Linked DNA regions of Homo sapiens: regions 1, 3 and 4 are each reported to be linked to region 2. The links are microRNA targets in miRTarBase. Many come from high-throughput screens and were not tested one by one. Region 2 holds a microRNA gene; each other region holds the end of a gene's coding sequence.
Evidence for each region. Region 2 holds the annotated microRNA hsa-miR-32-5p (UAUUGCACAUUACUAAGUUGCA, at 2,915-2,936, opposite strand). A microRNA usually pairs through its seed, bases 2 to 8, with sites in the 3' UTR of a target mRNA and lowers its output. Matches are read on the target gene's strand: a 7mer-m8 pairs with bases 2 to 8, a 7mer-A1 pairs with bases 2 to 7 and ends in A, and an 8mer does both.

Region 1: miRTarBase lists ARRDC4 as a target of hsa-miR-32-5p. Seed matches in the 3' UTR shown: 8mer at 3,825-3,832.
Region 3: the mRNA of CNOT2 is a reported target of hsa-miR-32-5p. Seed matches in the 3' UTR shown: 7mer-A1 at 5,477-5,483.
Region 4: miRTarBase lists CAPZB as a target of hsa-miR-32-5p. The part of its 3' UTR that is shown has no 7-base or 8-base seed match.

The regions. Positions count from the first base shown.
Region 1 is chr15:97,968,595-97,977,322 of GRCh38, forward strand. It overlaps ARRDC4 (arrestin domain containing 4), which reads left to right. Exons shown (of 8, transcript NM_183376.3): 5 at 529-785; 6 at 1,289-1,451; 7 at 1,995-2,149; 8 at 2,537-5,239. The coding sequence ends at 2,593. Among named protein-coding and RNA genes, the nearest start is that of ARRDC4, 12 kb to the left of the region's middle. RefSeq lists an enhancer at 1,818-3,017.
Region 2 is chr9:109,043,358-109,052,085 of GRCh38, forward strand. MIR32 (microRNA 32) reads right to left here and starts at 2,941; the gene lies at 2,872-2,941. It overlaps TMEM245 (transmembrane protein 245), which reads right to left. Exons shown (of 18, transcript NM_032012.4): 13 at 7,213-7,335; 14 at 6,926-7,071.
Region 3 is chr12:70,351,486-70,360,213 of GRCh38, reverse strand. It overlaps CNOT2 (CCR4-NOT transcription complex subunit 2), which reads right to left. Exons shown (of 16, transcript NM_014515.7): 16 at 5,221-6,385. The coding sequence ends at 6,299. Among named protein-coding and RNA genes, the nearest start is that of KCNMB4, 10 kb to the left of the region's middle. RefSeq lists a silencer at 7,979-8,179.
Region 4 is chr1:19,335,924-19,339,923 of GRCh38, forward strand. CAPZB (capping actin protein of muscle Z-line subunit beta) reads right to left here. Exons shown (of 9, transcript NM_004930.5): 9 at 2,852-3,694. The coding sequence ends at 3,607. Among named protein-coding and RNA genes, the nearest start is that of SLC66A1, 26 kb to the left of the region's middle. RefSeq lists enhancers at 1,431-2,395, 3,562-4,000.

The sequences.
Region 1 (8,728 bases), not on the chromosome of region 2:
GCCCCTGCTCCAGGATTCTGACTTGTTAGAAAGGAATTCAGTATGGAATGGTATGATGTGCAGCCATAATGTTATAAAACTTGCCTAATCCATCCGTTGATTCTTTCTGTGCCTTAACATTATTAATTCCTTAAAAGCAAAGGCTTTGTTCTCCTGTTAGGCAGATTTTAATTTGATAAGCACTAATGAGTTTGTTAGTGATCTTTTATACTTAACATAGTCCTGAATCATTTATTTGTATGTCTTATCCTAATTTATATAGACACTGGTCATTTACATATCTTTAGAATTGCTAATGCAATATTGCTACTTTAGAAAAGTCAATAATGCAATAATTAGAAAATAAGATCTACCACAACCTGCAGTGAATTTTTATTTCTCTGGCTTGAATTTACAATATGTTTTCCATCAAAGCTTCTCAATTTGTTAAAGTGATGTTGGAACATTTCAGCTATACGGCCCTAATCCATTGTGGTGAGAACTTTTTCAAGAGTCTCTGAATCCTCCCTGGTTTTGTTTTCTTTTTAGGAGAAGCTATTCCAATCTATGCAGAAATAGAAAATTGTTCCTCTCGTCTGATTGTTCCAAAGGCTGCTATTTTCCAAACGCAGACATATTTGGCTAGTGGAAAAACAAAGACCATTCGACACATGGTCGCCAATGTGCGAGGAAACCACATCGCTTCTGGGAGCACAGACACATGGAATGGGAAAACGCTAAAAATCCCACCTGTTACTCCATCCATCCTGGATTGCTGCATTATCAGAGTGGACTATTCCTTAGCTGTAAGCAAAGCTCTTTTTTAAAAAAAAATGTGTATGATGGACAATAACTGATGTCATGTTACTGTGGGTATGTAGAGTTGCCTATAAAAATGTCATTTTATTTCAGCATTAACACCAATTGGGGACTGTATGAAGATTGGCCCTTGTTTTTAATAAAACCTATTCCCCACAGGGGATTTAATAGAATGCCATAAAAGAATTGAGGTGCATTAAGGGGTGTTTGTTATATTGAAGACATAGCCTTAATTTTCTATAATTATTATATAAGCCATGCAAACCTACAATGATGCATGTTAAGGACACAGTTCTCTGTCACAGAGCATTCACTATGTTTTGTGTACTCTTCATTTTGTTTAATCAAGACAATTGAGAATTGTGATGGGGGTGGTGGCAGCCGACAAAAGCATTTGTTTCTATGAAAAAAAGAAATTAATTGGGCTACCTACTGGAGGTGTAGCTTACATTTGTTCCTTTCTCTTTTTTTTTTTTTTTTGGCTTATTAGGTATACATTCACATTCCTGGTGCTAAAAAATTGATGCTCGAACTGCCATTAGTGATCGGTACAATTCCATATAATGGTTTTGGCAGCAGAAACTCCAGCATTGCCAGCCAGTTCAGTATGGATATGAGCTGGTTGACACTGACCCTGCCAGAGCAGCCTGAAGGTAAAATATGTTGGCGTTCTTTCATAACGAAGCTTTACCTAGAAAATACCTAGGAACAGAATATATACACTATTAAGTGCTCAGATGTTGATGAGTACTGCTACTATAGGTATCTTTATTCCTACTACTAAAAAATCAGAAAGCATTAGTCCTGGGAGGGACTTTGAAAGTTTAGCTTTATCTAGGACGCAAAGCTGCTGATAGCAGATTCAGGAATAAGATGTACATTTCCTAATTCCTATTTGTAATAGGAAAACAATGAAAAACAGTCAAATGTATGGTGTGTTATGTCTTTTCTATAGTCATATTTCAGTGATATTTGTTTACCTATATCTCAAGAGACTAGAATAGAAGCTATTAGTAGTAGTTTAATAAAAGGAGAATCTATTTTTTATTGTAATATGCATAAAACCTTGCTGATTAGAGGGAAAGAATGCCATATTTTTTATCTTCAAGTTTAGCTGTTTCTTGTTTTTGTAGCAGTTAAGAATCGAGATTAATTTTTGAGTGGATTTCTTAACTCCAACTTCATTTCTATTTCAGCACCACCAAATTATGCAGATGTGGTATCAGAGGAAGAATTCTCTAGACACATTCCTCCTTACCCTCAACCCCCTAACTGTGAGGGAGAAGTGTGCTGTCCTGTGTTTGCCTGTATACAAGAATTCCGGTTTCAACCCCCACCTCTTTATTCAGAGGTAAGCAAAGCAAAAGAAAATTAGACTTTTACTGTATTATTTTCAAATAATCATTTTTTGTCATCCGTTCATTAGAGTGTCTGTTGCTGACTCATAATTAGTAAGGGATACATTTAAATTTGTTTATACAGTGGTAATAGATTATCGCTGATTCATTTGCCAGATTTTTTTACTATTGTCCTTGTGATCTATGGCATCAGATACAGTATTGTGGATTGCCTTTAAGGTGTGTTATTTGGCCATGGAATATAGAGAACTTAAGCACCTTCTGGGACTTACACAGGCTCTGACCAGCTTGGCATATAACCATCATATAATTACAAATAGGTACTAGAATCGTTTTAAATAATGCTACAACACTAATCTCAGTCCGCTCTTTTTTTGCAGGTTGACCCACATCCTAGCGACGTAGAAGAGAGCCAGCCTGTTTCCTTCATTCTCTGAACGTATTTCAGAAATCACTGTGTTCATCATCAAATTAGAATGTTGGTTCTTTTCCTTCTGCCTTTTTGGGAAAGAGACAGGAAAGATTCACTTGAAAACATAAATGAACGTCAAGACTGAAGGCAATAGAAATTAAAGAATGTGAGAAAGTTCTGGTGGGCCGGCAGGATTGCCGCACAAGTTTATATGATGGTCGTATATATATCCCTGTTAAAAACTGGGATGAAGATGTGCAAAGTCACAGAATGTAATGGAAGTCCTGATGGTTACAGAGTAAGTGAAAGGGTGCCTGCGCTGACGTGAGAGAAAGGAATCTGTAAACAGTGGAAACACTGTGGGAGTTTCCCATGGTGAAGAGTGGAACGAAGGCGATATGAACTGAAGGGGTGAAGACTTGATTTTGGAGAGGGCAACAAAACAAGGGTGTGTGTGCATAGGAGAATGGCCCACTCCAAATACGAAGTGAGATCCTGAGTCTTTGGGTGCTTCATGATTTCCTACCATATTCAGGCCTAAAGACATTGAAAAAGCATCTTTTCTTGAGATCATGGTCATATGAGGTCCTAATGAAGTACTACAGTTTTCATTCTTTCAAGGGTAGACTAAAATATAGTTTATAAATCGGCAGTACGGTATTATGAAACCAAGAAAGGGTTTCTTGAAAAGCTTGTCGGTTCAAAGAGGAAAGATGAATTTCAATGTGAAAACACGTTTTGTTGAGGGCTGTACTTTTTACCCCCTTTAAGTGCTTTAACAGGATATACGTTTGATTTTCCTCATATCTTATTTACCTAGGAGCATGTAAGAGAAAGAAGGGAGAGAAAAGGTTGCATCTGCAGGATGCCTTGATAACTACACAGTCCCAAATAAAAGGCCTTTTTCTAACCTACCTCTAATGGGGTTATCAGATATGTTTTTAAATCTCTCGCCCTGAGTACTCTTCTTGGGAGTTGCTGCTGTTTACAGCCACAGTCTCATCTATCACTAAATATGAAACTGGGCCAAGGGGAAAATTCAGTAAGTTAGCGTTAAATGGAAGTAAATATATGTATACCTAAGAGAATGTCAAAATAAACACCAAACCAAAAGAAGGTAGGAGTGCCATTTTTAGAAAAGACACAACTTTAATTCCTGTCAAGAGACCTAGGTCTACTGATGGCAGTCACTGCATTGTACATTATTCCAGTTCTTCAGTAATTCTGTTTAAACTGTGATTTTCTTTATTGTGTTGGTGCAATATTTTATTATCATTTAACCTCAGGATATTCAGACCAACAGGATTGTGTTGCTGCTGAAAGTCTGAGCAGTGTTTTACCGTCCCCAGCCCCCCTCCCACATGGTCACATGTTCACTTGCTTTTCCTTCCATCTGTTGGTTTTGTGAGCTGAGAGCATCTCTGGACACATGGAAGGGAGCCAGGGATTCCTGTGATACAGATTTTGAACCAGCAGAGTACTTTGGTTTTCTTCATGTCCTAAGGGTTTGATCCAGAAACCCTGGTGCTTCCCCTGCAGAATACTGTACTTCATTTAACAGAATGATTGATTTTTCTTTCAATCAGCATGTTCACCAAAAATAGAAAAGTTCTTCTAAGGTTAAATTTTGTATTTAAAAGTTAGTTGGCCATTTGATCAGGGAATTTTCTACACACATTAGGCAAATGTATGCTTTTCATCCTCTGGGCTTACCTCTCTCCTCTGCAATCCTGGAAGCATCGTGCATAGTTCTTTCATTGTAAGCCGCTATTTAAATTCCCACAATGCAAAACTGTTAGACCAGTAATTGTGCTACTGAAATTGTCACAAAACGTTATTCCTTGATTTGGTTTTTAAATTTTGCTTTCGTGTGTGTGTCTTTAAACAGGTAATGTGTATTTAAGTGTTGTCTAAACAGTTGATTTTTACTTTAGAAAAGATCATCTTCAACTGTTTATTGACTTCTGAGTTATATAGTTCATGCCCTGCCAAGGCATTGTTCGACTCCATGATACTAAAACATAATGAAAGAAACAAACTCCAGTATGGAGAAGAGAAAGTTTAATTATTTGGTTCCATCTAGAAAAGCAACAACTTAAAGGAATCCTTCACTAGGATTGTCTTATCACCTTTATTAGATAAATCATGAAGTGTCCCTGTGAAATTGAAGTGAAACTATCTCTGTAGGACTTAAGAGAATAGCTAAAAGGTGTGACTTGCCTTATTGAAATGATACTGGCATATCTGACTGTAAGCAGTAGGTTGAAGATATCATTTTATGAATGTGGAGAATTCTACATTGAAACAGAAAATACCTGGGAATGAAGATTAAAAATGTAGCTGCTGTTATTTGCTTGGTTATTCCCCTCTTGCTCTTCTTTAGTTTGAAAAAACAAAAACGTGGCCTTGGAATTTTCATTTTGATGCAGAAATTTTGAAATTGAAAATGTGCATGTTTTGGTGCACAAAATCCTTCTGTGGGCAAAACTTTGTTTTTGTTTTGCACAGTAAGAAACAATAGGCAAGCGTTATGTTTTTGGTAAGTTAACTATGAAAGCTTTCTTATTTTTATTATTAAAAATGTAACAATTTAACCCACAGGAAAAAAAATTACTTTGTATGCTTGTTTGAACCCTATGGGTTCGTTTTATTAATAAAATTATTACACTAATGCTATGAGGTGCTAGTTTTTTTTTTCAAATATAAATTATTATAGACTTAAGGGAACTCAATGCCAAAAAAACAAATGTTGCTGCAGTTGAAATCCTTTTCTCTAGGTGTGTTATCATGAGGGAGGAACAGCCCTAGAACCTGACTTTGTTTTTACAGTGGGCTCCGGTTCCCAAGGTAGTCCAGTGTTAGCATTCCATGAAGAAAAGTAGCTGAGACAAGTGAGGAAACTAAAGCTATATTGGTTAAAAAAGCATATCATCATTTATTCCCAAATGATAAGGATTACTCTTTAAAGCCTCCTGAGTTTGAGTGTGTGATTGTCCAGAATCTCCCCAGGATCGATTTAGCAGGTCTCATGGGTAGTCAAGGGACTCTTCCTGGGACACACTGACCTAAGTATGCCACCCCTTTCTACGCAAACACTCCAGTAGATATGAGCACTATACTTTATACAAGGAGGATGTGATGGTATGTCATTTCAAGGAAACCGCCCAGACCCTCTGCCTGGAAAACTACCACCTGAACTAAGGAGTAAGAATTAGTCCAGTTGGTTTGCTCTTCAGTTATTTCTAGTAGATGGTGTTACATAATAAATAGGTTCTTTCTGTATCCACATTTATAATCAACGTAAGTTGAAATATCTGTCTTATGCGATACTGAGGAAAAATTTTTGATTACCATTACAATTTCTGTAGTTTATGTGTAGTATGAAATTTAGAACTAGGCAAGACACTGCAAAGAAACTAGGACAAAGCCCTCACATTACAAATCAGGATGCCAAAACAGAGAGTTGTAACCTGAGAGCGTGGTCCCTGCTTGCTCTGAAATTTCCTGATTCTATAATCTTCATACAAGTAATGGGAACAACTAATTGTTTTCAGTTACACAGCCTAAGAGTTGCAGACCTGGTTACCTGGATACTAAGCATAGGCTAAATCAAGAGTCTTCAGTGTTTACACTTAAGAGCGCTGCCTCCCGAAAGGACACCAGTCTTTGACTAAATTGCTTCCAAGTGTGTTTAGTTGCCAGAATCTTTTCTTCAACAGAGATTTATGTTTCTACATTTATATAATGAAATAATTACAGACTCTCAAGAAGTTACAATAATAGTACAAGGAAGTCTTGTGTACTCATCACCTGGTCTTCTGCAATAACTACAGTACATTAGCAAAACCAGGACATTGAGAATACAATTTAGCTAGAGCTTAGACCTTACTTGGATTTTGCCAGCCTTTGCATGCAGTCATTTTTCTTGTGTATGTTTTTGTGTATAGCTCCATGACATTTTACCTCCTGTAGAAAGGCGTATCGTCACCACCACCAAGACACAGAACTGCTCCATCACCGCAAAGAAACTCCCTTAGGTTGTCCCTTTATAGTCACCCCATCCTCCTCTCCATTTCCTTCCCTCACCCCAGCCTTCCCACCCGTTTTTCATCTCAGTAATTTTGTCATTTTGAGAATGCTAGAAAAATGGAATCATTCAGTATGTACCTTTTGAGACTGGCAGTTTTTTACTCAGCAGAACATCTCTTAAGATCCATGCAAATTGCGCCATGCATCAATAGTTTGTTTATTTGTATTTTAATGGAGACATTTTAAAAGAAACAGAATCGACTACTTCTGAAATTTTCATTATGCACCTTGCAAAGAAAATGTGTGACATCGATAAGCACATGATACCTTTGTAAATATTTTGATTTTGAGTTTGAGAACTTTTTATGTACAAAATATGTAAATGCAGATTGATACAAATTTTTAGGGCTAATGTTTAGCTTGTCAAATACTTGAAGTATTTTGCCTTTAAATAGAAAGAGATTGCATTATAAATGAGCCAGATAGACCTGTGATGAAATTAGACAACAAGGAGAAACTATATTGGGCTATTTATCATATCGGCTTCTGAGTCTGATGAATTTTAACATAAATTATCCAGGAAAGAGACTACAGTTGCCTGGTGTGTTTGAGTATTAAATTTTGTGATTTTTTTCTCTTCTTTTCTGTTTCTTCTTTAATTCCTTCGTTCATACTCCCACTTCTTAATATCTGATGAAATGGAAAGACCACTCGGAAGCTGAGAAAATTTTTAACTACAATATATGTGTTTATTCCTAATGAAACAATACTATAAAACATGGGCTTATTTTCTAAGACTATTAAATTTTTCTAGAAAGGAGAGCTCTTATTTTATAGAAGCCATTACACACTAATATTTCCCAAAAACCAGACATGAGTTTGTTGGTGATGAGCAGCAGCAGCAAAAGAAAGACACCGAGATGGGGTGGAGATGGATAGAAAGGGTTGACCAGTGTCAACTTCTAGAATGTCACTATAACTGAATTCGCCATGAACTGTCTCTTTGGTGGAGCTTTCTGTGTTCATTGATGGAGATTTCACCATCCCTGACAAATTTTCAGAGAACCAAGACGTCTTCCTGAACAGGAAGAGACACGCTTTAGGCAGCTTCTCCCACTGGAAACAAGGGAAGCATAGGTGCCTCCCTCGTGTTTGCAAACACCTGCCACATACGTGCACACACACGCATGTGCACACACACTGTTATTTCTTCCTCTCCTCCACACCCTTTACCTCCAGAGCTGTGTCTCTTTCAGGTAAGAATGTAAGCTCCGTTACAAAACGAACAAACAGATAATAGGTTCCTACTTCCACAGGAATTTATTGGAAGAGAAGTCTTTTGCCCCAAGCTTCTTACTAGTTTGCCCCCAAACAGTACGAGTCTAGTAGAAAGGTATCAGGGAATTGTAATTAAATGAGAAAATGGGGGGGAAATAGATGCCCTAAGTTTATGTTTTTTCTTTTTTAAAAAAAGTCACTGCATGGTATAATAGTCATTTCTCCATGCTGCCCCAGCCTCATAGGTCCTTATTTTAATGACTAAAGGACATAAAATGTTCCAGACCAAAATAATAATGATTACATTACTTACAGCTCACACATCTAGTATTGACTGTGTTCTTTACAAATATGCAGTCACTTTCCCATAACATGACGGTTTCCGTGGTATTTTTTTATTTTGCTTTTTAAATTTTAGATGACAGAATCCATCTGATTGTCCACACGGCAAGTGTTCTATATGTGATCGCTTATTCATATTTGCTACCACTGCAAATATTTGGACTTGCTGGAACTGGTTGATTGAGTTGATTCAGTAACATCTAAAGATTTATTGTCTACAGTTAACTAGCTTCTTTTTTTTTAATTATACTTTAAATTCTAGGGTACATGTGCACAACGTGCAGGTTTGTTACATATGTATATATGTGCCATGTTGGTGTGCTGCACCCAAAACACAGCACACAAATGCACACACACGGAAACACAAGGCATGCACGCATGTGCACGCTGACATGCACTCACAGATGCTCTGTTTATTGGCTGGAGATTTCACCCCTTGGGCAAGAAAACTCATCAAAAATGTCATTGTTTATACACCTGGGAATCAAGAGAGGGCACATTATCAACACTG
Region 2 (8,728 bases):
CCCTTCCCTTTGTAACTGCTCACAACCATGTGGTCAAGCACCTACTGCAGAAATTGACAGAACACTTACATCAAGTTTACCAGTCTAATATTTATGGACTATATACGCTTCCTCCACCTTTATGTCTCAAAAAATATCTGCCTTTTCTTGGTTTTCTGGGACCTTTTTCTTCAGTGATTCTTCAAAGATTATTGACAGTTGTTCTTTAATTTTAGTCCAAGCTCTCCTAGCACTCAATAGTTGATGAGAATCAAACTCTGGAGGTTCTTTTCCTCCCTCCTTTTGGTAGCTCAGATGGACGTGATTTAGCTCAATGGAAGAAGAGACTGACACACCAGCCACTGAGCTAGAGGCACGGTTTTCTAACAAGGCCTATTCCCTATTCATAGACCTCCCATTACTACACAGTCTTAGAGATGTTCTCCTGTCCCATACTATATATAGACTATTATAGAGCAGGATTCCTGTCCATTGGAAGGTAGGCCATCGTGCATCCAATCCAGCTATGCCCCACCTAAGCATACCTCTCTGTGGAATAAAAGTTCCAAGAGTTAGTTAGGATCAGCTTTTTCTCAGCTAGGATTTTCCCCTAATAAAGCCTACTGTATATTTATACCGTATGGCACTAAAGGTGTGAATATCCATGCCTCCTTTACACAACTATATTTAATAATAACTCCTCTGCACCAGAAGCTTGAATTGACTTCAAATGATTGTTTACAATGTTAACTCTTCCTAACCAGCTCTTGATCTTCATCCTTTATAAATCCTAGGATGAAACTTACTTTTTCACACGTTTCCTGATACTTAACTTTAGCTCTCAACCCTCTCTTTTCTGACAAACCAGATTGTGCTTGCTACTTTTCTAAACTGAGTAAGAAAAAAATAACAAGACAATTCAGGATTTAATCAGATGACCTGCTTTTAATGGAATGATATTTGAAGCAAGGAGTGGGATGGGGAGAATAACAAACCAGTCCAGAAGCTCTATAAACTCAGTGTACACAGGGCCTTAGACCACAGCTGAGTAAGAATTACCTGTCTAAGGAAGAAGATAAATAATGAAGAAAAGGAGGAGTGAAGAGTCCAAAGTGAAATTCTGCCTCCTCCACATTTCCTTACACTGGTTCCACCCTCTTTTCTAAAGGACTGTCATTCCCCTTCCCAGTATTCTAGCCTCACTGCAATATGGTATGTCTCAAGTAGAAAGTGAGCTGGTGGGAGAGACCAGTCAGCTTTTAGAGACACAGTATATACAATAACCAGTGGGAAAAGTACTCGCCAGCTCCCTTGACTGCTCTCTACATATTTATGGGGTACATAATAATGTTTCAATACATATAATGTATAGTAATCAGATAGGGGTAATTGGCATATCCATCATCTTGATCATTTATCATTTTGGTTTTTTTTTTTTTTTTTGAGATAGAGTCTCACTGTCGCCCAGGCTGCAGTACAGTGGCATGACCACAGCTCACTGCAACCTCCACCACCTGGGTTCAAGAGATTCTCCCACCTGAGCCTCCCGAGTAGCTAGGACTACAGGTGCATGCCACCAAGCCCAGCTAATTTTTGTATTTTTAGTGGAGATGGGGTTTCTCCATGTTGGCCAGGCTGGTCTTGAACTCCTGACCTCAGGTGATCTGCCCGCCTTGGCCTCCCAAAGTGCTGGGATTTGAGGCGTGAGCCACCGTACCTGGCCTCATTTCTTTTGTTGGGAGCATTCTGTATCTTCCTTCTAGCTACTTGAAATGATATAATTTATTGTTGAACTACAGTCATTCTACAGTGCTGTAGAACATTAGAACTTATGCCTTCTAAGTAATTTTTGTATCCTTTAACAAATCTCTCTCTACCCACCCCTTCCCAGCCCCAACCTCCCTTGAGAGGTCACATCTTCCCTTTCTTGATTAATCTGCCCTGGAAACCCAGCTCCACAGGGTGTCATATAGCAACCTGGCTGACATTAGATTTCCAGCATGAGGGGAACGGCCGAGCTGCTGAAGGGCACAGGGGATGAGCTGCTTACGTGGAATTCTTCCATTCTCACCCTCCAAAACAGTGGTGAAACACAGAAACATACAATGACAGCATCACAATAGATCATCTGGAGGCTATGGTAGTAGTAAATATTAATTCAATATTTTCATACAGTAATACATGGTTTTGTGTCCTTGACAATGCCTAGTGATTGTGGATGCTTACTCTAATGCTAACTAAAAAAATAACAAGGGGTTGTTTCAATTACATAGGCAAATAGTAAACGTGTATTTCAAAACTAGTTCCATTATTAGCCCACTAAAATGAATTTAGCAGTTTTCGAAGCATCACAATGAGAAAGTAAAAGACACATTTTTAAGGTAATTTACCTTGGAAACTTAAGTTTATGAGATGAATCTTTCATCAGGTAGGTTAAGCATACCTTTACTGTCTTGATTATTATTTAAGAACTCCAGTTAATTTAATTTCCCCAAATATGCATAAGAGATTTCTGCTTCTCTATTCCAGTGTTGGGAGAGATTTCTTCAAATAAATGAAAATACATTTTCTTACAGCTTTACATTCTTCCTTATACATTTAAATATTGTTTATACTCTTAAATCAATGAGAATTTGTAATAAATATTTCATTTGCTCAAAGTAAAAAATGGAAACACTGATTTACTAAATGATCATTGCTGACTTTTTTTAATCCAAATACTTTTAATTCTCCAAAATTGGAAGGTACCGATGGGAAGCATGTTCACTTTCCAAATGAGAATCGCATGGCATACACACTGTCTTATCTAATTCATCAGGACACCCACCCACTGGCACTGAAAAGCTGTAATCCCAGCAAGCAAGAGCCATACCCGTGTGCATGCACTCATGTGAAAATATCACACACACTAAATTGCATTGAGGCCGTGACAACATGCAACTTAGTAATGTGCAATATCTCCACCAGAGCAAGCAGAATGGGAGCATCAGGGAAGAAGGGTGTGATGTATACATTCAGGAGACAACATGCTGCTGAAGAGAGGAAAATGGTCTGGGGATAAAGGATGCATGCCACTGACTCAAAACTTCATGAAATGAAAACCCAATTGCAAATGTATTCAACTGAGAAGAATACTTATTCAGAATCAAAATAATGAGTAAGGTTCAAAACTTCAATGAGATAGTGATCATAAAGAAACCACATACTTCAGAAGGCAAAGCTTCACGAACAGACACTATCACTGTCTGGTCATGCAATTAACCCCCAATTTCAATTCCATTTTTGACTTATTCACAGATCATATAAATGAATGTAATGATTTCCACTTAGCTGCAACATAGATGATGATTAATGACTGATGCTTATAAAAGTTGGTATCACTGATATTTGTAGGCTAAACTGCACTTTGAGGACATTACAATATTTTCATAGTCATTCATAAATTATAAATAACCACTTATTTTTCCCTCAAAATCTTTTTCCATGAAGAAACATATTGCCTCTTCAACACAAACCTTCAGGATGAAAAATCCAACAGGAGCTCTTAGAAAGAGAACTCACTACCATCTTCTCCACAGGAGAAAGCTCTTCAGAGGAATCTCTGTAAAATCTGTACATTTTAAGTCTTGAATTTGAGCCAGTAAAGAAACAGCCCTAGGAACTTAAACTGCAAAAAAAACACCTTGAATTATAGCCTTAAAATTACATAACTTGATATAGCTTTGGTTAGAAAAATGTCTCAGGCCATAACCCATTCTTTAGTCTGTACCATATTTATCAGACTCATAAAAATCTATCAATTCTGAGAACCATTAGATTATAGTTCTGGTACCAAAGGTTGTTAAAATTTTTTCTGTATTTAAAATAAGGTGATAATAAAACAAATGGTTTTTAAATGCCAGTATACTATGGAACCAAGACATAAGCTACTGTTATAATACATAATTAGTGTATGCACTCCCAAGAAGGGAAGTCGAATCTAATTTGTAAAAGACTGATTTCCTCATATCGCTGTAGATGACAGCACTCTTTGTAATCTCAAATTCTCTCCTGAGCCAAAGACCTGAATTTCTAAATGCCACCCTCTTATGTCCACAAATATAAGTCATGATCTTCCCTAACCAGCTCCTCTTGAAAGAAGGCATCATGGTGTAACAGAGTATGTGCTTTCAATCAGCTGAACCTAGGTGTGACTAACAGCTTTACTTACCACTGACTGGCAAACACAACAGCTAGGAATTAAGTTTAAAACAAAAAAGGTGGCATATTTGGTATGAAAAAAGGTGACAGACATTTAGAGGATGGTCTGCTGTAAGAAAGCAGAACAAGAGAAAATTCAAAAGCTGTGATGTGAAAATAGAAACATTTTTCTAAGAATAAGAGTCAGTAACAATGAAGATTACTTGAGGAAAATGGAAGCATCATCTTTCTTGAAGTTCTTTATGAACAAGGTAGATATTTTTCTGCAAAGCTTGGCTTAAGCCACACTGACTGGAGAATTCCTACCAGCCTTTGATATGGCTGCTACAATAAATAGCTTTACCCCACTGGGAAGATAAAAGATTAGCCTTCCTTTTTGGTAGAGCATTTGCAAAAGCTTTTCTGAGTCAGAAAGATATCACCTAGATAAACAAAAGATTATCTATTGCTAGAATTTTCATCATTTCATTTATTCAGCAAAGATGATAGTCAATGGTCATATAGGACTTAGGAGGGAAGCTATAGCTGGTACTTCCTTCGAAACAGCTTCACCCCAATTGCTGTTACACTGGATAATATACTCCCAAATCTGGAATCTTTATAGATGGCCCCTGTGTGGATACCTGAGGACACTATACAGGTGTTAAGAGCATTTTTTTTAATCCCACTTGACAGCCAATCGCGGAAACAAGGTATTGGTGAAGATCTTACCCAGGCCTTGCTAGTAGGAAAAGGGGAGAGAACTTAGCAAAAGTTCTACAGACATTGTATTTTAGGAGCATGCATCCTGTTTGAATGTAACTGAAGGTTTTCTAACAATCAAATGGGATTCTCCCTAGCTATTACATGAACACAGTGAAAAAATATACCAAGATCAATCAGGTGCAATTATCAGAGAAAAAAAAAAAAATCAAGATTTCTGTGGAAGACTAGTTCCAGACAATATTTATTAAAAGTATGTGGAGACAGAAATGCCAGCCAAAGATTTGCTATTCAAGAGATGCTTAAGACCACCTGGTTAACAACGTATTAGAAAAAGGAGCTCTAATGGACAATAGGAGGGTTTAATTTGAGACGTATTCATAAGAAGTAAAAATGTAGTTGAGTCTTGTTAATGAGGAATGATGACAGGGATTACAGGAGGGGCTGAGACAGGCCTGCTCTGCAAAAGGGTCCTCCCTACCAGAAATGATGAAGAGGAAAAGATAAAGGAAGCCAAGAGCCAACGACCTGGAAAGAGCTTATACAGAGGAAAAGTTGAAGAAGTTCATTCAGAAACAAAGCCTGTAAATACATGGATGCCAGAAGTCATAACGAAAAAGTTTCTGGCCAGAACCTCCAGTGCATACAGAGCCTATAACTTAAGAGATAAACAACGATTCTGCATTTCCAGTATCCAACCTACTCCTTGCAGAGGGCACAGCTTGGCTGTAGGACAGAGGAGAAACAGGAAGTCCACCTACTCTCCTTCTGGAGCAAAGCTAAAACTCCTGACAGCAGAGGGTTCTGAAAGAAGTTGGAGATGGGGGTGGTGGAAGCGGGGGTTCTCTTAAGCAAGTGACATGATGCTAACAGCTAGTCTAAGATCCTGCTGATGGAAAGCTGATGGAGATAGACCATTACATCTTTGTAAATCTCAGGTTTGAGAGAAGGTTATCAAAACTGCTTTGAATTGTTAAATTTTGTTTTGTTTTTGAGATAGGGTCTTACTCTGTTGCCTAGGCTGCAGTGCAGTGGTGTGACCAAGTTCACTGCAGCCTCCATCTTCCAGGCTCAAGCAATCCTACCACCTCAACCTCTTAAGTAGCTGGGACTACAGCTTTCACACCACCATGCCTGGCTAATCTTTTTTATTTTTAGTAGAGACAAGGTCTCGCTATGCTGCCCAGGTTGTGTCAAATTCCTGAGCTCGAACAATCCTCCTGCCTCAGCCTCCCAAAGTGCTGGGATTACAGGTGTGAGCCACCGCGCCCAGTCTGTTTTTTTGTTTTTTAAGAAACAGGGTCTTGGCCGGGCATGGTGGCTTATGCCTGTAATCCCAGTATTTTGGGAGGCCGAGGCAGGCAGATCACTTAAGGTTAGGAGTTTGAGACCAGCCTGGCCAACATGGTAAAACCTCATCTCTACTAAAAATACAAAAATTAACTGGGTGTGGTGGTGCACGCCTGTAATCCCAGCTACTTGGGAGGCTAAAGCAGGAGAATCACTTGAACTCTGGAGGCAGAGACTGCACTAAGCCAAGATCACACCACTGCAATCCATCTCCAAAAAACAAAGAAACAGGATCTTGCTCTGTCACCAAGGCTGGAGCGCAGTGGCGTGATCACAGCTCACTGTAACCTCAAGTTCCTCAAGCAAGCCTCTGGCCTCAGCCTCCCAAGTAGCTGGGGTTACAGGTGCATGCCACCAAGCCCAGATAATTTTTAAAATTTTTTTATAGAGACAGGGTCTCACTATGTTGTCCAGGCTGATCTCAGACTCCTGGCCTCAAGCAATCTTCCTGCCTCAAGCAATCTCAATTGCTGGAATTACAGACATGAGCCACTGTACCTGGCCTGAATCTTTTTCTTATTAACAACTGCACTGTTCATATTTATCCTGTCAAAATGAGATGAAAACCTTGAAAATACCAGAGTCCATCACGAGTTTAGCACTGAATGTTATCAGGATGCTCATGACAAAAAACAGGCTTATCATGGAAAAAAAGTTCTGGGAGAAATAAGAATAGCATAAACCTTATCCCTACCTGATAGCTTCTTCCACAGACTGGCCAATAATATTAGAAGAAGGACCTGGCTGAGATAGTGGAGTCAGGCTTATCACCCACTTCACTGGCTTGTAGTACTCATCACTGGAACTTAATAGATAAAATAGTGTGGTCAGGAAAATTATCTGCAAAACAAAGGACAACATCTCCTAAAAAAATCGTATTTGGAAACTATAGGAAGACAGACATCTGCAATTGCAAATGAAACCAGAAATATGCTTTAACAGGGAAGGAAATATGACGTGTACTTATCTATGTGGACGTACCAGAGAGAGTACAAAATTGAGAAGGGCTGTCCCGCTGTAGAAGAGGATGGTCAAGAGTGTAGTGACAGTGGTGAACAGCAGGCTCACATTCCGGCTCATAACGATCCACAGAGACTCCAAGATCTGACGAGGAAGGAAAGCTGGATATCAGAACCAATCCTCATGAAAAAAGTTTCTAGAGCCATCTAGTGTGCTTTTAATACAGTGTTTTAGTACCATGAACTGAAAAGCTAAGAACTGAGGATTATTTCAAATGAAAATTAAAAAAAAAAAGAAAAATCAACCAAAAACAGTTGTATACTCAATAGTAAAGAAAATAGTAAATCCACACCAAATAATATAGACAGCAATTAAAAACATCACTGTTATAACATGGGAAAATATTTTACAATGAAATGCTAAATTTAAAAAACAGGATTAAAACATTTTATATATAATTGGTGGGGCATGGTGGCTCATGCCTGTAATCCCAGCACTTTGGGAGGCTGAGGCGGGTGGATCACTTGAGGTCAGGAGTTCCAGACCAGCCTGACCAACATAGTAAAACCCTGTCTCTACTAAAAATACAAAATTAGCCAAGTGTGGTGTGGTACATGCTTGTAATCCCAGCTACCTGGGAGGCTGAGGGAGGAGAATCGCTTGAACCCAGGAGGCAGGGGTTGCAGTGAGCCGAGATCCTACCATTGCACTGTAGCCTGGGCAGCAAGAGCAAAACTCTGTCTCAAAACACACACACACACACACACACACACACACACACACACACACACATCATTGTAGATTATGTAAAAATCGCAAGCAGAGAAAAAATATAGTCATGCATCACTTAATTATGGAGATATATTCTGAGAAATGTGTCATTAGGCAATTTCGTCCTGCAAATGTCATAGAGTGTACTGATACAAACCTAAATGGTAAAGCCTAGCACACATATAGGCTGTAAGATACAACCTACTACTCCTAAACTATAAACCTTTGTAGCGTGTTACTGTACTGAATACCACAGGCAACCACAATATAGGTATCTGTATATCTAAACATCTAAAAGGTACAGTAAAAATACAGTATTATAATCTTATGGGACCATGATTGCATTTTGTGGCCCATCATTAACAGAGACATTATTATGTGACACAGGCCATGACTTTACCTCCTGGGGAATATGCTAGAGTACAACCTGTGGTTATATTTATCTTGTAGGATCCTAAGTGCAGGCCATGAAATTCCAGTATTTGCTTTACTGGCTGCCTAGCCCCCACCCTTGCCATTTCCAACTTAGAGCTATCTACAAATATAAAAAGCATCACCTCAATGACTTCATTAAATCACAAGAAAAGCAATCAACAGACAGGGACAAGAGCAGTGCTCTGAGGCCAAAAATCTTTCCTGAGACAGGCAATGACCAGTATATTGACGTCTACTGAGTTCAGCTGATTTGTCACCTACACATTCACTAGAACCAGATATCATGAGGAAGGTTTCTCATAGATGTTAAATATTAATAAAGGAGAGGTAC
Region 3 (8,728 bases), not on the chromosome of region 2:
GTTCAGTATGTAACAGATTTAAAGGTAGCTTTGAAACATTCTGGCTGCCCCAAATCTTTATTTTTATACATAAGAAGATGAAACTATTTATATCATTCCCTCATGTAATGTTTTCTCATTCAGATGTATAATTTTGAAGAATAAATGTTTAATTTAAAATAGTTTTCTCATTATAAATTAGTATCAAGAGGCCTGATTCTAAAAAGAATCAAGCAGACTCAGCGATTTGTGGACATCATACCACCCTTGAAATTTGAAGTATTCTTCCAAAATGTTTGAAGAATTCATGTATTATCATCAAAATTATCTTCATTATGCACTAGGAAATAGTTTGGCCTGGAAGAAAAAAGCATGTATTGTAAGTTTTAAAAGTAAATTATATGGTCAAAATGTCACTTAGGCCAAAAATAAATGCAAATCACAAAAACATTACATTTCAGGAAACACATACAAATTAGAGACCAGCTCTGATTCATAGTAAAGATTTGTTTTCCTCAGCTAGTGCCTTCAATTATTGTCTAAAAGAACTAACACTTTTGGCATAAAGCCAGTTTTATTTAATCTTCTCTAAGAAAGATGTCAAAACATTTTGGTGGTATGGTATGGCCTTTCAGGCCTAGAAATGAAAACTAAGATAAATTTCAAAAAGAATGAAAAATTGGCTTTGCTATGTAGAAGATAGTTTAAGTATTTTAGCACATGTCAACTGGTTATCATATGCTATTTGACTATGCAATAATTTGGATTTTCAAGATAGAGAATTATGACAATTAGGACCTTGTGAATTTTGACACTTTCAAGAAGTCATTTAAATAACTGAGAGAAAACTGTACAATAAACATGGAAATGACTAGCTTTTTAAAAAGCCCTATAAATCTTGAGTTCTTATGATAAAGAGACATGTCACTAAAATCTTGTCACAGTATTTACACAACTGTTTAATTGGATTAAAAAACCTTCAATTAATGCATACATAACTGATAATGTAATTCCCATTACATTATCAGTTTTTATACATACAAACTGAAGAGGAAATCTTAAGATCAGCAGAAATATTCCCAGGAAATAACTGAGATAAAAGCACTTTTGCTGTTTTATATTTATATATGGATTCAGCTTTCCTCCTGTTCTGCTAACAAATACTATTGTAGTAACATGGTTTCTGCCCTAGAACATTGGATGTTATAGGAAAAAGTAAATGAATGCCCCTGATACACAGGGATTATAATATTTAGTGGGATTTTAAGAAACAAGATTTTATTCTACTTAGTACTTGTACCCAGGAGATTGCACACTAATGCAACGTACAATTTCAGACTAAACATTTACGTCAAAACTTAAAAATTGTCTTTTTCCTCTTTCAAATGTAGAAATATACACATAAATAAATCTGGTGAATACACACATACATATGATTACTATTTGTTGTGCTTTATTAATGTTTCACATTCCTACTCCTAACATCAAAACAACTCTACATGTAAGTTCAATAAAGTTGCCTTTTGTAATTCTTTTTTGATTTAAATTTCTTTCCAAAGATATAGCAGTGATTTTAAGTATACCTTATCCATGATTCACAGAACAGCATATTCTTATGTACTTAAAGGTCAATGCTTTAAGTATATACCTTTTAGCCCTGATGACATCATAGTCTCCAACTTCAAATCAAGAAAAGGGTATCAGTACCTTAAAGAGCTGAAAAGAGGTCTGGAAGTAATCACATTCAACTTTTTATTTAAAAAGGCAGTCCTGTCAACTAATTGAGAGTCATTCAGTTTGTTTGCACATTGACTGAACCTTTACTTCATGAAGCAGCTAGTACTGTGTAGCACCTTAATATAGAAAAAGTCTGTTTCATTCAACTTCTCCTTATTGGTTTGAGACTTGCCCTATTCCAGTTCTTCCTGTGTTTGATGACAACTGTCATGCCTCCCCTTAGTATTCTTTAGTTGTCTCCAAGACCTACATCTCATCAATTCTAAGATGCACGTTCTTTCTTCACATAATAGATACATTCTGTAATTGGCAGCTTGTCTTAGTGGTACATAAAATGGTGTCCCTTACAATTGATGGCAATTAGATTTGCTGAAATACAGTAATTATCTCACTTACTTTAACACTTTTTCAATGAGCCACAGGAACATTAAGACATTCAACTCCTTACCTTATGCACAGAACACTATCCAGCCAGTCTCTCCTAGGTTATGTCCTATGAAGTTAAATCTAACGCCTTACAAAGCAACTGATTTAAAAATCTGAATTAACTCAGTTACTTTTTAATATTGCACTGAAATCCCTTATTTGTCCTAGTTCTGCTCTTCCAGTCACAAGAATGAGCTTAATTGCCTTTCATTGACAGCTCTTGAATTTGATACCTGAAGACAAATACCATGTTTCCAAAATTGTATTCCTATTTGTTTTTAAAATTTACTCTAAAATGGGAACACTAAATTTCACCTCATGATGCTATTCTTCAGACAACAATGTATATAAAAACACACAGCATTTGCCAGGCAGCTAGAAGGCATGCTACTTCTCCATCCCCTTCTGCCTTCCCCAGGCATGGCAGCTCTTCTAATACAGCATTCAAACAGAAGATGACATTTCAGATGAGTGATTACTTCCAGTAGAGTGGGCTTCCTATCTTTTTCTGAGTGCTATATTTTTCTTAATGTAGCTGAAGATTACATTAGTATTTTTGGCAACAGGATCACAATTCTTACTGATCTATATATGAACCACTCAAATCATGTTATATTCCACCATTCTTTATTAACAATCAAAGTGCAAAACTAAGTAATTTTCTTGATTGAATGTATCCTATTTGATTCAACTCTACACACCAAACTACTTGGTTAGATTTAGATCCCAATTTTAACCTTCAGTGAGTTTATTTGCTTCATCTTCCAGATCTGTCATGTATTCATGGTATAATCAAAGTCACTGGTAATGCCAGTGGCAAGGAGACAGCCTTGTGACCTGCCATTAGGATCCAACTTTTAGAAAGTAAAGGCATCTCAATGTCTGGCTTAGTTCATTCTCCAGAGACTATCTCAATGGAACCTAGTTAGTAGATATTTCTAGATCTTATTAACTACATAGACAAACCATGGTTAATGTATTATACAATCCTGTTTCCACACACGTATAGGTTTTCAGCAACTTTTTGCAAAATTGAGCTATTAAATCTAAGTTAAATGAAATGAGTCCTACTGTACAGCCATGCTCAGATGCCACATATTTTATGAGCAATGGATATAACAAAGTGGAAGATCTATGGCTTGTGAATAGAAGAGGATTTATCAATTAGAGAAGCTATAGACTGGAAAAATTTGAAATATTTAAAAGTTATTGAAAATGCTTAAAAAGATTATTGTGAAAATGAAATTATAGCAAATGATAATTGAGTAAGCTATCTCAAAGCCCAATGCTTTATACTTTATTTTCAAATTGAAATATCAACTTTTATCAGTCAACAACTATCAAGCACCTGCTTTGTCCCAATTTCAGTGTCAAAAAGAAACAGACTAGTTATATATACTTTAAGAATTAACATAAACTTTCAGTTCTTAAAATGTATTATATCTAAGGAAAACTATTTGTGTAGTTAAGTCTCTGAAAATAGAGCTTTAGCATATAAATTATAATACCACCTAAATAATTATATTTGAAACCAAATAAAGGATTTCCCTTTGCAATTAAATAGCTTTTATTCCCAGAAAGCCAATCATAGTTTAATCTAAAAAATTTATTTAACATAGTGTACACATCTATTTCACTAGCTATATAGGGGGAAATTAACAGAATTAAAGCTTTGAAAGAAAATGTGAAATATAATTAGTTGGATTCAGCCTCTTTACATGTATAACCACGTTATAAAATCAAGGCGTATTATAACTGTTACATTTAAAAAGTTCAAAGTAGTGTTTTAAATATTTCAAATAGAGTAATTTGTATTTTGAAGTCCATAGCATGGTAATTTCTGATATTAACAAGTTATAAAAAGTTGGCTAACATGCAAGAGTTTCTTCATTTTGATGATTCAGGATAAAAAGAACTCAAAAAAATGGAAAAGTGTGCATTTAAAACTCTGTATATGGCAGTTAACAAAAAAAGAGAAAAAAAGATTACAGCCAAGACAACAAACCACTTGGTATGAGCTATCTTATTTTTCGGAGTCATTCATCAGTACCAGTCATGATCACGCTTCAGCTGAGACTTCAATCTATATTGTTGTTTATATTCATGAGAATAAAGATCCCCTTCCACATTTTTCTTCCTACTTGTTTTTTGTGGTTATGTAGGAAAAATTACATTTTATTTTACAAAGTGAATTACTAGGAAAAATGTAATCTTTTTTTTTCTAGATTGATTTCTATGCTTTGACTCTGGTTTATGTCAAATAAGGTATAGTGTTCTGTGAAGGTTTGTGCACAATAGATAAAATGATTTATATAGTGCTATCTTTCTTACTGAGGAGATGCTTTGGTTTAATTATGAAAGATAGAAAATCCTGTTTTTTATAGTGTTTCTCATATCTCAAAATGCATAGAAAAAGGTAAATTTTAAGCCACTTTATATTCCTGGTACACAAACACAGCAATGTCATAAATGTTTCATTTTCAAAAGATTTGGTTAATGCCAACAGACTTTTACTCTTCATAGAAAAATAGGTTAAAAATGAAAATTTAAAGGATCAAAACTCATTGCCTTTTTTCTACTCTCTAGTTCTGCTTTGGAAGCTTCAATCTTCTGATTTTTAAAATACAGTATTTGTATTTAGATGGGAAAAGAATCCACTAACTTGTAAATATGAGATATCTAGGCCAGCAAACTGAAGGTAAAGTCTACCCATTCCCACCTTATGGCTTACCTTCATTTGCACATTACTTCTTAAAGATAAATTTAAAGGTCTATCAAGAAATTTCTCATAAATTTTTCACAGAAGTACTTTGGTTGGGTTCCAAGAGTATTCAGAATGTTTTATTTCTAATGCTGCCACAACCCATTTAAAAAAGTTTTCTCTGATTAATACTGTCTACATTTTTAACCTACAAGTGAAACGGTTCACTATATTTCCATTAAATTACTTGTTGGAAGCTGAAAAAGACATTTGAGTCACACCATTCAGTTTGATATCTGTAAAACTTCAGTTTGTTTCCTCTATTTTTCATGTTGAAGAAATAATTTCGCAATTTCAAATCAAAGCCAACACTGCAGTGAGGAGAGCTTTTCTACTTTATTACAAAGAGAAGAAGCCTTTATGTGGTCAGAAAATACAAGATTGATCTTTTTTTCTCTTCCTATGAAACGCTGCTGTTCAAACAGCCAGAGTGAATTGTCTCAGTTCACTTCTTTTAAGTCCCATCACATTCACTTGGGTATGGATGTCCTTGGCTGCTGAAAATCTGGCCCTTTTAGTGCACAGGGCGACAAAGTCCCCTGACCAGCAGTTCCAGAATGTCCCATTTTCATATATTGCATCCATGCACACCTCCTAAAAATGAGGTACAGCAGGGCAAACATTTTCCAAAATAGATGTCATATATATAATATATACACATTCGTACATACATACCTTTATTCATGTGATGTCCAAAAATTTAAAAAAAATGTACACATTTATTACAAAATCGTAACAAAGACTGGACAGTGTTTTGCTCATTCTGGAAAGATGAAGCTCAGTAATAACACAACCCTGGAAAACCATCCAGAGATTGTGGCAATATCTTTCTTCTAAACAGTCAGATATTCTTGCATTAAGCTTGGCGAAACTGCCTTTCAAAAACAGAAGGGGAAGTAAAATGAAGGAAGCAGACCTCTTGCTCATCTTTCCAAATGAAATACGAGAAGGATCTTCACATAAAAATGCACAAACATTTGTTATTTTATTACCAATAGTGCTACAATGAACAATGCAAAATTTGTGGTCTAATTTTCTTGAGTCTTTTGGGGGTTTTCTTTTTTACATTTTAGAAACTATGGTAAACTTCTGTCAGTGTATTTGCTTGTCTTTACAGACTCAAGTCTGTCTGCTGGCAAAAAAGGAAATAAATGAAAAAATTCAGACCCTGCTCAAACTAGAGAAAAACAAATTACAAATTTAGTTGTTGGGCAGCACATAATTAGTAAGGCAGGACCTCAAATGGTGACCTTTTGCGTAAGCCAATTGCCAGATCCTCAAGGAATTAAAACCAGGGTGCCTGAGCCACATCAGTTCTGCAGTTATGTTGAGTATTGTGCTGAGACAGCCATACCCCAAGAAAAGGGAAGTCTTTTTTTTTTTTTTTTTTTTTTTTTAGAAGGCTTGCTGAGCAGGGTTGTAGTTGAAGGTGGATGGCAGGTGAGGCCGTTCTTCTAATTTGTCATATTCCAGATGGAACTCCTATAAAAACAAATTCAAGAATTTAGATATCTTCCCCTTTTCATTTTACATTTGTCAAAATACATTTTACTATAAAAATAAATAAAATACCCAATATATATGAATCAACATCAACACAGATATACCAACTGTTTTTCCTCTACATAAAATACAGCTTGAAGAAAAATAATGTGCTGTAGTTTCTAACCAATGAGTACAAAAAATACAGACAGGCTTTCTGTGTGTAAGTCAAGAGACTACTAATGGACCACTTGACACTGAAATGTTGTGTATTGTTTTTAACTTAAAAAAAGAGGGGGCAATTACTGTATCTCTGAATCACTGGAAATTACAGGATATTTAAAATAAAGCCCCCTTCAACGAAGTATAAAAACCTAAAGATTTTGTCCATGAAAAAAGTTTAGAAATAATTTTCCAAATTGTCTTTATTACATTTATATTAAAAAATAAGCAGGGCCGCGCACAGTGGCTCACGTCTGTAATCCCAGCACTTTGGGAGGCTTAGGTGGGCAGATCACGAGGTCAGGAGATCAAGACCATCTTTACCAATCAACATGGTGAAACCCCGTCTGTACTAAAAATACAAAAATTAGCTGGGCGTAGTGGTGCACGCCTGTAGTAGCAGCTACTCAGGAGGCTGAGGCAGGAGAATCGCTTGAACCTGGCAGGTGGAGGTTGCAGTGAGCCAAGATTGCACCACTGCACTCCAGCCCAGATGACAAAGCAAGACTCCGTCTAAAAAAAAAAAAAAAAGGAAAACACATAAAATTATTCTAACCTCATTAAAATCTGGGGAAAATAATGAACTTAAAACTCACACATCACTAGACTTGCATTTCACAAACCCAAAACCCTGACTCAAATATAAATCAACTGCCACCGAAAACTAGACAATGGTTCTGCTGTAGGAACATTTGAAAACTAGATAGCAGCTCACTTTAATCAAACTTTCAAAATACTGTATTAACTTCATGAGTTTTAAAATTTAAGAATGGTGACATAATTTCTTCATGATACTTCCCACCCAAGATCAAGAATAGAGATGCAGAATAGCTATGTATATTAGAAAAAAATGCAAACAACAAATACCTCTGCAACCCCAATAAGCAAGAGGCTCTAAAAGCCTCTTACCAATTCTACCATCTGAATTAGCACAAATTACTGCATAATCCAACTTAAAGAATTATGAAGCTTAATATGTATTATGTATTAAAGATTAAGGCAACAAGTGACATTAGCTACCATGGGTTAACATATTTTACCTTATCTGTCTGGTTTCAAACTGATTCCATGATGAGTATTTCCATTATTAAATTAAAATGAAAACCTAGACTATAATGACCAAATTTTAAGATGGAACACCAAGTATTTAAAATTTAAAGATATTACACTTAAATAAATTTAAAGATATTACAGACCTAACAGCAGAATTTATTGAAAGCCTAGTATGTGCTAAAATTAGAGATACAGCTAATTTTATTCTAATCTTTGTAATAATTCTGTAAAGCAGATATCATTATTTTCATTTTGTACCTGAAGAAAATGAGGCTTACAAGTAACTTGGACAAGTCATCAGTAAGCGGCACACCTAGCATTAGGATCCAGACCCATGTGACAAAAAGCCTCCATGTGACAAAAAGCCTGTGTCTTTTGTAGTGTAACACATTATTTTTAATATTTTTAGTCCAAGATCCAAAACAGATTCATTTACTTCATTACAAGGCAATCCAGAAATGCTGAAAGAATTCAGTCCCCTTCTCTCTTGGTATAAGGTGAAGAAAAAGGAAAAAAAAAATCAGTCCCCTGAGAGTTTATAAAGAAGGTACACCATGGTGACTTTAGCCTGAAAAGGTTGCCTTCATGTGACTGGTACAGTAATTAAGACACAGAGGTTATTTGCTTATCAGTAAAAATTAGCAAACACCAGAATCACCACCACAACCATGACATCCTGCCCTAATACACTGTGTAGCACTACTCCCCCTCTCCCAGCCCTAGCTAGGAATTAAAATAATTTTATTGCTTGGTTCAAGTTGACTATCTGAATTCGTGAAGAAAATTTGTTATCATTCTTCTGAAATTAAAATTGGCATTTTTGTTTTCAAAATGTGTAGTTACAGGGAAAAAAAGTCTAATTGTAACTTCCACAAAGTGGTAAGTTATACTGAGTAAGTTAACTAAAATTTTTCACATTGATGAACTACAATGTATGACTAGGAATTCAAACTAGATTAACTTTATCAATGTACATTTTCCCCCAGAAAAATATAGTTTAAACCTAAGCAGCGTAAATAATTTTGATATAGAGATTTAGAAATTTTGATATAGAGATCAGAGATTTAG
Region 4 (4,000 bases), not on the chromosome of region 2:
CTGCTGGACCCCAGAGCTTTCCTCACCAGGCAGCCAAGGAACGAGCAGGGAAAGGCATGGCTGGGAAGTGGGAGAGGGTCACCAAACACATCCTCGAGGCCCACTGTCCCCAATCTCACCAGCTGAGTTTAGCATTAAAACACTAGCAGTGAGGGCTGTGTGCGGTGGCTCACACCCGTAATTCCAGTACTTTGGGAGGCCAAGTTGGGGGAGGGATCGCTTGAATTCGGGAGTTCGAGACCAGTCTGGCCAACATGGCGAAACCCGGCCTCTACTAAAAATACAAAAATTAGCTGGGCGTGGCGGCGGGCACCTGTAGTCCCAGCTACTTGAGAGGCTGGGGCAGGAGAATCGCTTGAAGCTGGGAAGTGGAGGTTGCAGTGGGCCGAGATCACGCCACTGCAGTCCAGCCTGGGTGACAGAGCAAGACTCCATCATAAAACAAAACAACACAACACTAGCAATGAGGGCTGGGCGTGGTGGCTTACACCTGTAATCCTAGCACTTTGGGAGACTGAGGTGGGGGATCGCTTGAAGCCAGGAGTTTGAGACCAGCCTGGGCAACAGGGTGAGGGCCCGTCTCTACAAAAACAAAAAAACCCAACTGGTAGTGAGGGTCCCTGTGGAAGATTCTAGATAGCAGAGCAAGATCAGGCCTGTCATACATCGCAGTCACAATTTCTGGGTTTCAAGCATTATTTTTGGTCCCAGGATTGTACGGCTGATGAAAGTGACAGCTCAAGGAGCAACTGGTGGGTTTCCTGAAGGGAAATCCCCTGAGAGGAGAGCGGGCCTGAGCCTCCAGGGGTGACTCTCAGGTGAGTCAGAGTCCACTCCACCTCTGCAGTTCTGTGGAATTACCACTGGCGTGCACAGCAGCTCCCAGCCTAGCAGCCTCTGCTGCAGGACAGCAGGCCTCTGCTGTGGCGTTCCCGGTGTGCCTGTCTCACTGACTTCAGGGGTGGCTGTTTTTCCCTTGCGACCTCAGCTCCTCTCATGTGTCCAAGGAAAGGCATTTTCCATTTGTCCAGTTTCTTCTTGAAGTGACAACTGCCAAAGATTATTTGCTTGGCCAAACTTTAGTCAGGCTCCTGAACCTTCCCCTAGGCCCACCTGTGTGCCCTTGTAAAATCCAGTTTCAGCAATCCCTTGCTAAGTCAATTTTACAAAAACGGCCATCCTTGATATTTTTTTTCTTTTTTTGAGACAGGATCTCACTGTCTTCTAGGCTGGAGTACAGTGGTACGATCTCGGCTCACTGCAGCCTCAACCTCCCAGGCTCAAGTGATCCTCCCAACTCAGCCTCCCAAGTAGCTGGGACCACAGGTGCACACCACCACGCCTGGTTTGTATTTCTTGTAGAGATGGGGTCTATGTTAACCAGGCTAGTCTCAAAGCCCTGGGCTCAAGCCATCCTCCCAACTTGGTCTCCTAAAGTGCTGGGATCGTAGGCGTAAGCCACCACACCTGGCCTCATCCTCCACCCCCACCCCCAGGTGATGTCTGGTCACCCTGGCCTGTCTTCAGCAAGAATCCTGTTAGGTGTGTTTGGCCGGAAGACCCCTGACCCCTGAGGTTTCCTCTGAGTCATTTTCCACCCACTGCCCCCCTCTGCTCCTTGGCTCTAATCCCCACCTGCCCGTGCTGCTGCACTCAGAGTTGAGCCCAATCTCTCTCCCCATCCACAAGACCCCACTGCAGTGGCCCCTGTACCTACCTTGATGATCCTGGATAAAACTTTACCATGAAAGAAAATGAAAAGCAAAACATTTGTTTTTCCAGCCCCTTCTGTGTGCCAGGCACCTTGCCAACATGACCCCGGGAGGCTGCAGCACCCGTGTGCCCATGGGGAACAGCTCGCTGGGCCCTTCTGTGTGCCAGGCACCTTGCCAACATGACCCCGGGAGGCTGCAACACCCGTGTGCCCATGGGGAACGGCTCGCTGGGTGCATCCCCTCATGGCTCACGGCTGGAGTGTGCCTGCGTTCTCCACGTGGCACTAGGAACTCAGGGGGCAGGGGCTTCTCTGCTGTCTGTATGCCATGGCACTTGCACTCCATAAAGATACTGCATCGGCCGGGTGCGGTGGCTCACGCCTGTAATCCCAGCACATTGGGAGGCGGGAGGGTCACCTGAGATCGGGAGCTCGAGACCAGCCTGACCAACAAGGAGAAACCCCGTCTCTACTAAAAATACGTTAGCTGGGCATGGTGGCACATGCCTGTAATGCCAGCTACTGAGGAGGCTGAGGCAGGAGAATCGCTTGAACCTGGGAGGCGGAGGTTACAGTGAGCCAAGATCATGCCATTGCACTCCAGCCTGGGCAACAAGAGTGAAACTCCGTCTCAAAAAAAAAGATGTTGCATCAGACCCAGGGACCTCAAACACATGGGCTGGCCAGGTTGTGGAGCCCGCTGATTGGCCACGGACAGATGGGGGGATGGTCTCGGCAGGGACTTTGAGATCTGCTTCAGATCTTCCCTGGGGCAGTTTGGAGGGTAGAAGGCAGACTCTGTGGCTCTGTGCAGCCTTGGCTGAGTTACTGCAACTGAACCTCGGCTGCCTCACATTTGTACTAGGCACAGTGGGAAGGCGGCGGGAGGTGCGTGCTGCGGCGCCAGAACAGTGTTTGCTGGTGCTTCTGCCCTCCAACGGCAGAGGGCGGAAAGGGACAGGGACTCTGCACCTCATCACATACCTGGTGTTTTCAGGGCGGCGGGGCTGGGGACGGGACACTTCCTTGCTGCCGTGAGCGGGGCCCACACGCGTCCCAGCTTGGAGCCAGCGCACGGCCACGGCCACACGCGCTCGGAAAGCGAGGCCGGCGAGAAGGAACACAGAAGGCCAGCGCTAACTGCGCCCCAGTTTCTTTTTATTGATTTCTTTTCTTTTCTTTTTTTAAGTATGGAGGCTCAAGTATAAGATGTAGATTTTTTTCTTAAGCTTTACAAAAAAACAAAATAAAACAAAAACCTCCTTTTGCATTCCATAGAAATTGACAGAAAAGCACCTGGCCGGAAGAGCGGAACGGTCGGCGGCACCCCCCCCAGCCCCCACCCCGCGGCCTCCGTGGGACGGGAGAGTCTGCGCAGGACGGCACCGAGGGCCACCTCTGCTCCCAGAGCTGTCCCCTGTCCCCACGACCCCCAACCCCAAGCAACTCCCAAACACACACGGAATAAGATTTCCAGTTTTTCTTCTCTCTTTCACACACCACAGTTAGTTCATAAAATTTTTTTGTTTTACATTTTTTACACCAATGTACCAAAAAGGTGGGAGGGAAGGGAGGCTGGCAGACAGTGGATTTTATGCCTATAAATGGGGGGACAGGGAGGAAGACGGGGGGCCCGGGTGAACAAAAACCACACGGTCTCTATGGAAATGTGGAGAGAACTGAGAGCGAGGTGTGGCAGAAGCAGGCTCGGAGCCGGAGGAGGGTGGCTATCGGCTTTATTCTCAGGGAGAGATGGCGCTGTGCGGTCAATGATGCAGCTGTTATGTGACCTGTCGGGGAGGGAAGGGACGAGGGAAGGGAGCAGAAAACGAGTTTTCTAAGAAAGGAATCTAACGAGTGCACGGCGTGTCTGGTTAGCATGAAACAGAGGTTTAGCATTGCTGCTTTCTCTTCAAAGCCTCCACCAGGTCATTCTTCAGAGCTTCTTGTTTTGATTTGTCTGCAAAAGTCTGCACAGACCTGCAAGGGAGGAAAGGCGTTATCAGCAGATTGAACAGGGACTGGTGAGGCGGTGGAGGCCTGGGGGCCACCATGCCAGTGCCTGGCTGATTTGCTGCATGGACCCGCTTCCTGGGGTGAGGCTCTGGGTCACTGGGCTGGGCATCTGCCCCTCTCAGAAAGGGGCAAAGGGGTACATGGCCGAGACCTGCACCCTCTGCACCTTGCCAGGCCCTGTGGGGGTGGCATATGGCTTACATGGACAGGTGCTCATCTCTGCCCCTGGCCACCGGTGACCCGGCCATAGTCCCTAGAACCCTAAGTTCA